Regions from separate parts of the Homo sapiens genome. Here region 2 is linked to region 1. The links come from fine-mapping of genetic effects on gene expression. A gene starts in region 1. The other region holds a variant in brackets. All regions are shown on one strand. Distances are between the middles of the regions.

Region 1 (5,528 bases):
AGCTCAAGTACATTAGAAATGCCACCCAAATTTATACAAACTGATATAAGAAGCAGAGGCTATTCAAATTCTCCAAACGTGTGCCCATCCAATATGGTGGCCATCGGCTACACAGATCTATTTAATTAAAATTTAGTTCTTCATTTACACTAGCCACATCTCAAGTGCTCATAACCACACACAGTACCTACATCATTGGACAGCACCACTCTAAACAATGAAAAAATTAAGAAAAAAGGGAGTTTTTTGGAACTGAACCTTAGCCTATATCAAATGCAAACTATTCATGCACCTGTGCAACAGGTGGTCTAGATCACAAAGGCAATGACTTGGACAACTTTAATCTTAGACCACAGTCAGAAGACGTAGGTTCAAATCCCAGCTATGCTACATAGCCACCTTAAAGTACCCTAGACCTGTCACTAAATCACACAGCACCACATAATGGTTAAGAGCATAGAATCTCTGGACTATCTGGATTTGAATTCCGACTATCATAGCTCTGTGACATTGGGAAAGTTACTTCACGTCTCATTTGTTATCTTCATTTTACAGTAGGGCCTACCTTCTAGCTATGTTGTGGATCAAATTAGTTAATATTTGTAAAGGCAATGAGAACAATGCCTGGCATTATTGTTATATAAATATTTGCTAAATAAAAATAATCTTTCAGGCTTCTATTTCTTTAATTCCCAAATGGGCAAGATAAAACTTGCTCTGTTGGGAGGCCGACGGGGGCGGATCACAAAGTCAGGAGATCGAGACCATCCTGGCTAACACGGTGAAACCCTGTCTCTACTAAAAATACAAAAAATTAGCCGGCGTGGTGGCAAGCGCCTGTAGTCCCAGCTACTAGGGAGGCGGAGGCAGGAGAATCGCTTGAACCCGGGGAGGCGGAGGTTGCAGTGAGCCAATTGCGCCACTGCACTCCAGCACTCCAGCCTGGCGACAGAGTGAGACTCCATCTCAAAAAAAAAAAAAAAAAAAAACTTGCTCTGCCCATTTCACGTTTCATGATAATGAATGACAATAGGATGTAAATTACAAGAAAATGTTTTAAAAGCACAAAAGGTTATTAGATTACAAGGGGGCAGAGGTCTTGCCTTCCACATTCTTTAATCTCCCACAGTATCAACCAAATTGCTGTGCTAAGTGTTCAAGTTTTTCACTAAAACTGGAGCATCACACTCTAGAGTCATAAAGTGATAAACCTGAATAAAGTGCAGAGTGCTTATTTAAGGAAAAGCCTGCTATAAACTCATTCTGACCAAAAGAGGGTGAAATTACCTACCTCAATTTGAGTTCCTAAGGAGCAACGTGCACAGCCTTGAATCATTAGAGGAAATCTCCATTCCCTAACCTCCATCCCTTAAAGAAACACAAGTGGGTTCTATAGTTCTTGTCAAGTTACCTATCCTGTGATTTTGTGTGTGTGTGAAAAAGTTTTATTCAAGTTCACAACTGACAAGTAGTATAAACAGACTAATTTTCCCCAAATATCCTGTCTTTCACTAACTGGAAACAGAATCACAAAAGCAAATAGTGGAGTCTCATTAAAAATTATTGTAGAGAACTTTTACTTATTGCAAACACAACCTACGCCAGAAGAAATTTCAAAAGCGACTTAATGAAAATATAAACCAACACCTGATCTAACTGTGCTAATGAAATCTGTGAAAAAACAATGCCACCACGTTTCAACATTAGCCAGCACACCCAACATGAACATCTACTTTCCGTTGAAATAAACGTCAAAGGCTGTCAGCTGCTACACCTTCCAAGGCAAATTGGAAGCCAAATTCTTTCTAGAGTTTGGGGTTTTTATGAGTTGATACGGGTGCCAAATCAGGGAAAAAAGAAACAAAAGGAAGCAGGTAAGACCCCTTTTAGGAGTCCCTAAAAAATATCACTGCTGGCTGCTGCAACAAATGTTTTGAAGACCTAAGTTCACCACAAGCCTTATTTATTTCTGGTGGCGATGGTGGGGAAGGAGGAGAGTAAGCACAGAAAATTATTAAAAGGTAAGAGGACCTTAAAGTTCATCTAACTCAACGCCCTCCTAGGGTAAGGGTTCCCAGTACCCCAAAGGTTCTTTTTTCCAGGGCATGAGCTGCAATACAACCAAAAATAAGGGGTAGCGATGGCGAAGAAACGGGAGAAAGACGATCTTCTGATCAGGCCCGTCGACGGTTGCAGCGTTCCCCCAAGACGCCAAGAGCCCGCCAGTCCCTCCGCCCCTCTCTCCCCAAACCCCAGCCTCGGCTGAGGCGCGCACGCGCAGCAAGTAGGGGCTGCGCGTGGCGACGCGCAGGCGTAAAGTGGGTAGAAACAATAAGCTTTGTTGCCGAGGCGGTGGGAGGGGGGCAGGGGAAAGGGTACCCGGCGGAGGGATAAAGGACCGGGAGAATGAGGAACAGGAGAAAGTGCTATCCCGGCAACCCTCGCGCCACTGAGGACCCGGATAGAGAGCTGCGAGATCCAAATCATTAATAATGACAATGAAAAAAAAGCGACGGCCATGTCTCGGAGAAGACAGAGACGAAGTCGGCCCAAGCTCATCCCTCAGACTTGGTGGAAAGAGGCAATGAACAACGGAGGCCGCAATGGACTCGGTGGCCAACCACCCAGGGAACCCTTTAGGCCCCTCTGCCGTCGCCGACTTGCTGTCCCTCGACCTCCGCACCCCTGTCGCCACTCTGCCCGAGAGGACCCCTCACCCAATGCACAGCAGCGGGGACGGCAGCCAACGAATCCTGTCGGCCTCCGCGGATCTCCACAGGCAGCGCCGCTCCCCCGCTCGACGTGCGCTTCGCCCGCCGCCTCCCTTCTCCAGTCCAAACAAACACCCCAGCCCGGAAGTGACTTCACTTCCGTCGCCGCCAACCCCGCCCTCTTGTTCTGTCAGCTCTGCCCTCCGAAGCCACTAGAGAGCGCGCGCGAGAACGCGCGACCCCGAAGTCTGTCTCCAAGGCTGCACACGTGTGCACGCGCAGCAGCCTTTCCAGCGCGCCCCTACGGCCGGCTGCCGGGTGTAGCAGGAACGCTGTCGCACGTTCTCTCTGGAAGGCAGGAATGGGGGCGTACCACTGTTCCCACACCCGCCCATCTTCCGAGAATGATGATATGCAATGAGTGAGGCAGCTGGGGACTGAAGAGCACCCTGACAAGATACACAGGCGTGGACTTTCACAGACATCACACACCCCCCCAAAAACGTAATATTTAGGTAATGACATAGCACACACATACCCATACACACCCCAAGAATGATACACAATGTCACACAAACAGCGACATGCACCGAGTCACGTCAAGATCCTGACACAGAAAAATAATAAACTAAGGGAAATCACAGAGGCGTACTAAATGATATGCAAACATCCGCACTCAGACATGTGCAGGCACAAAAACACACTTTTTGAAGCTGGATGCAAACGCAAAATACAAATACATGTGCAACTTCTTTGTGGCTAAAGGAGGAAATGCCCTGTCCACACAGGATAGAAAAGTGTGACCTCCGGGTTCAAGAATTTTGTAGTCCGTGATCCTGGGTGCACTGGCCCCATAGTTATTCTTACCCATGCTTCCTTCCTGTCATCGTTGACAAGCCCCAAGATATATTTCTAGTGACACTAAGCAATGTAAAGAAGAGAGTATGTTTTTGTTTTTTTGTTTTGTTTTGTTTTTTTGAGGCGGAGTCTGGCTCTCTTGCCCAGGCTGGAGTGCAGTGGCGCCATCTCGGCTCACTGCAACCTCCGCCTCCCGGGTTCAAGAGATTCTCCTGCCACAGCCTCCCAAGTAGCTGGGACTACAGGCGCACGCCAGCACACCCGGCCAATTTTTGTACTTTTAGTAGAGATAGGGGTTTCACCGTGTTGGCCAGGATGGTCTCGATCTCCTGACCTCGTGATCCACCCGCCTCCGCCTCTCAAAGTGCTAGGATTACAGGTGTGAGCCACCGCACCCGGCCGAGAGTATGTGTTTTACAAATCTGGATGTTCAAATGTGTAGATACTATCTTTGAAAAAGGGACACAAACTAATTTCTTCCCTTTGGAGAGGGCAAATGACCGACTAGGAAATGGGTGCAAATAACTATCCTTTTCTCCTGAAAAATTTGAATCTTTTAAAAACTATATGCTTGTAGTATTTACTAAGACAAAAAATTCCCTCCATGGGAAGGCTTGAATTTAGAAACCGGGTTGTTCCTCTTCAGAGCTATTTCATTCACTGAATACTCTTCTGGGCCAGTCCAAAGCCCCAAAGAAATGAATGCAGATGGTTCTGCCCTAGCTCCTGGGTCAACCACCTTGGCAGCACTTACAGATCTATATTCTAAACTGTGAAGATAAGCTATCAATCTGAGGCTGAAGGAAGTCTGAACATAACAAAATAGGTATTTATATAGTCTGAGATGACTCAGACTCTCTTTTTAAGACACAGTCTTCCATCACCCAGGCTGGAGTGCAGTGGCATGATCACGGTTCACTACAGCCGCAACCTCCCTGGCTCAAGCAATCCTCAAACCTCAGCTTGCAAAGTAGCTGAGACCACAGGTGTGTACCACCATGCCTGGCTAATTTTTGAATTTTTTGTAGAAATGAGGTTTTGCCATATTGCCCAGGCTGGTCTTGAACTCCTGGGCTCAAATGATCTGCCCGCTTCAGCTTCCCAAGGTGCTGGGATTACAGCCGTGAGCCACAGGGCCTGGCCTAACCCAGACTCTCTTAAAAGGTAAGCATGAGGCCAGGTGCGGTGGCTCACACCTGTAATCCCAGCACTTTGGGAGGCTGAGGCGGGCAGATCATGAGGTCAGGAGTTTGAGACCAGCCTGGCCAACATGGTGAAACCCTATCTCTAATAAAAATACAAAAATTAGCCGGATGTGGTGGCACATGCCTGTAGTCTCAGCTACCCGCGAGGCTGAGGCAGGAGAATCGCTTGAACCCGGGAGGAGGAGGTTGCGGTGAGCCCAGAGCATGCCATTGCATTCCAGCCTGGGTGACAGAGTGAGACTCTGTCTTAAAACAAACAAATAAACAAAAAGGTAAACATGAGATAATTGAATTTGTTATTTAGTAACACAAGCCACTTAACTGGTTATAATGGTAATAAAAAATATTTGATAAATCATGTGAAACACTCAAAGGCCAATGCTGTTTTTCCCACACAAAGGGGTTAAGATCTCAATTTCCAGATCGCACTGAGAGTTCACCACAGTGGCTAAGCGTCAGGGGCCCAGTATTTCCTTGGCATTCTCTAGACATAAGGACACTCTGCTCACATGCAAAATAAACTTCAATGTAGCAATATTATACTTGGATAGTGATGGTGATGATCTATACATGGAAAACAAAATAATGAAGGCTAACAAGTTTGCTAATGGTAAGGAGAGACACTGCAATGGGACCAACAGAGAGATCCAGTTTTAAAACACTGCAAAAATTTACCTATCTGGTTCACATAGTAACCATCTTAAGATGGAGGTTGAAGTAGAAATCAGAAGGCCCAGGATGGCTATGAGTAGGC
Region 2 (5,000 bases), 38 kb after region 1:
AAGTTATACAACTAATTGCCTTCTTACTGACCATCCTACATCAGGCAGTGTTTACTTCATATCTAGTCTTTTAAAGTAAGGAGAACTAACTCTGGTCAGTACAGGAATAGGAGCCCTCCCAAGAAAAAACCTAGGTACAGGAAATACAGGTGATTTAAAGAAGGGAACTCCCCAAATCAGCATCCATCAGTACTCATTTAATGCTCAGGGCTACAGCACATCTAGAGCACAAAACAGGTAAAAATGAAAATGAGATCTTGGTTACACAGTTTCCTGTAAACTTTTCACAAGAATAGCCCAAATCACCTGGTAAATTTATGTTCTGATTATGATCCCCCAAGACGTGTTTCTAGATGAAATTGTTTTCTTTCTTAAATCATTATTGTTGTACCTCAGAAACTGTCACATAAGAATTTCCAAATCTTTTATATCACGATTGTCATAAAATATTAGTTGAAAGATATACATAACATCTTCAGTGAAACAATTTTATAATCACAACTACATACAGAGGTAAATCTGAAGTTGTTTGGTACAGAATTCTATGAGGCATTGCTTAAATTTTCTATTTTTTGATCACCAATACACTCAGCACTGGTAGCTTAATATGTGAAACTTTAACAGTAAAACCAGACAATATCCAGTAGTTACAAGTCTATTACAGGATCAATTTCACCAATGATAGATTAAAGCAAGGATACAATGGACAAATACAGTGGCAAAGGAAGTATAAAAAAAGTTGCAGGCAAGAAAGATTTAGACTGGATTTTAAAAAATAGATATAATCAAGTTTTAAAAGACACAGAAATGCTATAAGAGGTGGCTGGAGTTACAGGAAGATGTTTTTGCACACCAAGAAAGATGAATTTGAGAAAATACACCAAAGAAACTATTAATAGTTCTAGACAAGATCCACTATGTAAACTACTTAAGCTTTAAGATTAATAAAGACGAGAATAAGTGGACTTCTTCAGATGAAAGTTTCTTTGATATGTCTTATAAATGCCAGACAGAATGGCGGCTGAGATGCTATGTAAATGGTGGTGGACCCTCTAAATTTTCACACATATTTTTACAAATCAAATCCTTTAGAGGGTTTTTCAAAATAAAAATGTTGAAGTATCAGGGTTATTAATTGCAGCTTTGACCTTCATGTTGTAGCCAAAGCTTTGCATTACTGAAAAGTCAGTCTTTTGAATTATTTTTTCCCTAAGAGAAATTATATAATGGTATTACAATTATGTTTAAAATTTTTAAAACGGCCATATTTTAAGGAAATGTGACTGTTAGACTACAGAGCTCTGAATTACATTTTTTGGTAGCTCATAGGAAAACAGTGGATCAACAAAAGGAAAAAGTTAAGAGAAGCAAAGGTAAAGGATAACCTTAAGACAAACAGAAAATGAATGTCAGAAAAACTCAGAAAAGAGTCAAGACAAACAATGTAAATCCCATGACAACGTGTAATTCCATAACCACCTTAGTAGTTTTAAGATACTCAGTTTCAACGTAAAATGCAGCTCCATCAAGGATATTAGGGTAAAATTAGTGAAAAGCAACTTAAGTTAGATTTTGGATTAAACCACAAATAAACCAAATTCTTAAAAATGGTTTTATTAGAACAAAGTTGGGAGAAACCAGATGTGGCAACATTGTTGAAAAAGCATTAATGAAAACAGTTCCTCTATCATGTCAATGCTGAACATAAGATGTACAAGCCACTTTTAAAGGCTCATTCACATGGGCCCCACTGCCTATTAGCAAAGGCAGCACAATATGGAGACACTTACTAAAGATTTACAAAAGATTAGCTCCTTTTACTGTATTGTTTTTTCCTGTAATTATAAAATTGCCTTTCTATAGGAAACTGCACTAGAGGTTAAAACAATTTTAAATATAGTAGCTTTGGGAGAACATTTATTATCAAAATCCAATTTACCTATTTAAAATCTCTATATACTAGTGTAAATGCCCATCAATGCAGAACCCTTCACTTCCAAAAAAGAAAGCACCTGCACCCCCCTAAAAACTATCAACATTACCCACAATTTCACTACACAAATGCCATTTACTACAATCTTGATAACCAAATTCTTTTTTTTTTTTTTT[C/TC]AGATGGAGTTTCACTCTTGATGCCCAGGCTGGAATGCAATGGCACGATCTCAGCTCACTGCAACCTCTGCCTCCTAGGTTCAAGTGATTCTCCTGCCTCAGCCTCCCAAGTAGCTGAAATTACAGACACACACCACCACTTCCAGCTAATTTTGTATTTTTAGTAGAGACGGGGTTTCTCCATGTTGGTCAGGCTGGTCTCGACCTCAGGTGATCCCCCTGCCTCGTCCTCTCAAAGTGCTGGGATTATATAGGCATGAGCCACCACGCCTGGCCCGATAACCAAATTCTTAACAAATTAGCTTAAAAATTCATTTTTATAGGCAACTCAAAACAAACTGTAACTTAAAATTATTTTATGATACAATTTTAAGCTGTTTAAAAATGTTAGCTTCACATTCAACATCTAAACAAATCTGAGTATCATCCCTATGTATGGTTAGGAAACGTTTCAGTTAATATTCTACCTCCCATTACATGAGAATCTGATTTTTGTTATTGGCTTTTTCTTCTCCAATTAAAAGAACTAGAGTACTAAAATATTTCTGAAAAATTTCACATACCCTGAAAATTCACGGAGAACAGAAGCAAACAGCTGTTCCAGATCTAAATTTCCTTAAAGATTACCGGTAAGTCCTTAGTCATTCTTTCAGAGTAATATCTAGCAGAATTACTAAAATAAGCGCAAGCTAACTTTAATTTCTTAGAAGGTATTAGAAAAAAATGAAAAGATTTTTAGTTTAAAAAAAAAAGACAGTGTCTGACTCCTTCATTGCCCAGGCTGGAGTGGAATGGCATCACACCTGGGAGTGCATTGCCCAGGCTCACTGTAACCTCTGCCTCCCAGGCTCAAACCATCCTCCCACCTCAGCCCAAGTAGCCGGGACTACAGACACATGCCACCATGCTCGGCTAGTTTTCATTGTTTTGGTAGAGAGGGGGTTTTCACCATGTTGGCCAGGCTGGTCTCGAACTCCTGGGCTCAAGCAATCCTCCCGCCTTGACCTCCCAAAATGCTAAGAGGTATCTACTACTCCACATGGATCTTCAGCTATGCTCTCAACTGTGTGAGATAATCACTCCTTTAAATAATTTTTCTCTGGCAGGGCGCAGTGGCTCACGCCTGTAATCCCTGCACTTTGGGAAGCCGAGGTGGGTTGATCACGAGGTCAAGAGATCAAGACCATCCTGGCCAACATGGTGAAACCTCGTCTCTACTAAAAATATAAAAATTAGCTGGGCATGGTGGCACGCACCTGTAGTCCCACCTACGTGGGAGGCTAAGGCCGGAGAATCACTTGAACCTGGGAGATGGAGGCTGCACTGAGCCGAGATTGGGGCACTGCACTCCAGCCTGGGCCACAGAGCAAACATCGTCTCAAAAAACAAAACAAATAAAAAAATAATTTTTCTCTTCTCAGTCTTTGTAGTCAGAATTAAAAAAAAAAAAAACAACTAATTTGAGATGGTTTACCCATAAAACTATGAAAGATTATTTATGGTTTAACCATAAAACTAGAGATACTCAGGGAAAAAAATACCTTCATAATGACATTATTTTAACTTCACATTGAAACTTACAAGCAACAGCTAGAAAACTACAGTTTCTTATATTTTCCTCTTCTGAATTGCAAGAAATGCTCAGATTTTCCAAATGTTCTATCAAGGCCAATCACCTTGATCATTTATTAGCTTATTCATGTGAAAATATACCAAATATGTTTTAGGTAGCAATCAACAATACCAATTTAGTAAAAATGTCTTAACCTATGTCACTGATAGATGGCAGACATAGTTGACTGTCAGTAATTTCAAAGCAGCACCATTTGGAAGGTAGCTGCTTGATTTTTGTCATAAATCACACAAAAATATTGATTCCTGCGGTCAGGACTTTCAAACCAAGCATCCAACTTATTTTCAATTCAAGAACAGGTTTCAGTTACTATTTAAATTTTTCTTCATTTATTAAATTTTATAATGGTTTTATAAAGAATTTACCATAGTTTCCATTTTAAAAGTACTACAAGTTTTCATTTTAATGGTGTATATAATATTTCCTAACATATTTTGTAACAATTATTTCATTTAAGGGTTTTTTTGAAGTATGCTGAAGAACTACATTTTTTTCCTAGAGTTTCAGCCACTTTCAAATCTTATGCTCTCTAATCTATGTTTTTGAGTGTCACAATCTCATCTCAGTATGGCATGTACCTTGAGTGGCTTAAGAGTTTTTAAAATAGGCCAGGCGCAGTGGCTCACACCTGTAATCCTGCACTTTGGGAGGCCGAGGCGGGCAGATTACCTGAGGTCAGGAGTTTGAGACCAGCCCGGCCAACATGGTGAAACCCCGTCTCTACTAAAAATGCAAAAATTAGGTGGGTGTGGTAAAGTAGCATGTGTCATCATACAATAGAAAAGATAAAAAAGTGTAGTGCCAGGAAGGCTGAAATACAAGCATGAATATTTTCAAGTGCTTTAAGACCACTGTTCTTAATCCATCTAACAGACGTGAAGTCAATTTTTAGTCCACTTCTTGATCCTTAGGCTAATGAATGACAAGAATGTTGCAGAGTGGCGTCAGCTGCTGAGAAGACAGAAAACTACTTGTTAACCAGTGTAAGAAATTCCCACTCAGACCTGGAATAATACTGTCTTCTTCCTAGGTTTAAAATTTTTTCCCAGTGACCTTCAATCAGGCAAGAAATAGTTTCAGATTAGAACTACACAGAATTGATGAAGTAAACCCGTATTACAAGATAGAAAGTTACCCCGTGTACCTGATGATGTTCATTGTCTATTTGAACTACGACATAAACTTGGCTCTTTACTTTCTTCTCTGCTTAAGCAAAATCAGTGATTTCTTTCAAGGCTCCATTCTGGGCTGGGCGCGG

The links. PIP is the estimated chance that this variant, and not a neighbour inherited with it, causes the effect.
Region 2: its variant is the best candidate, but not a certain one, in a credible set for the expression of PAIP2 in whole blood (INTERVAL, PIP 0.56).

The regions. Positions count from the first base shown.
Region 1 is chr5:139,339,170-139,344,697 of GRCh38, reverse strand. It overlaps PAIP2 (poly(A) binding protein interacting protein 2), which reads right to left and starts at 2,844. Exons shown (of 4, transcript NM_016480.5): 1 at 2,718-2,844.
Region 2 is chr5:139,301,610-139,306,609 of GRCh38, reverse strand. The region is part of intron 1 of MATR3 (matrin 3); the gene reads right to left. Among named protein-coding and RNA genes, the nearest start is that of MATR3, 10 kb to the right of the region's middle. RefSeq lists a silencer at 4,456-4,750. The variant C/TC (reference allele first, on the strand shown) is at 2,110.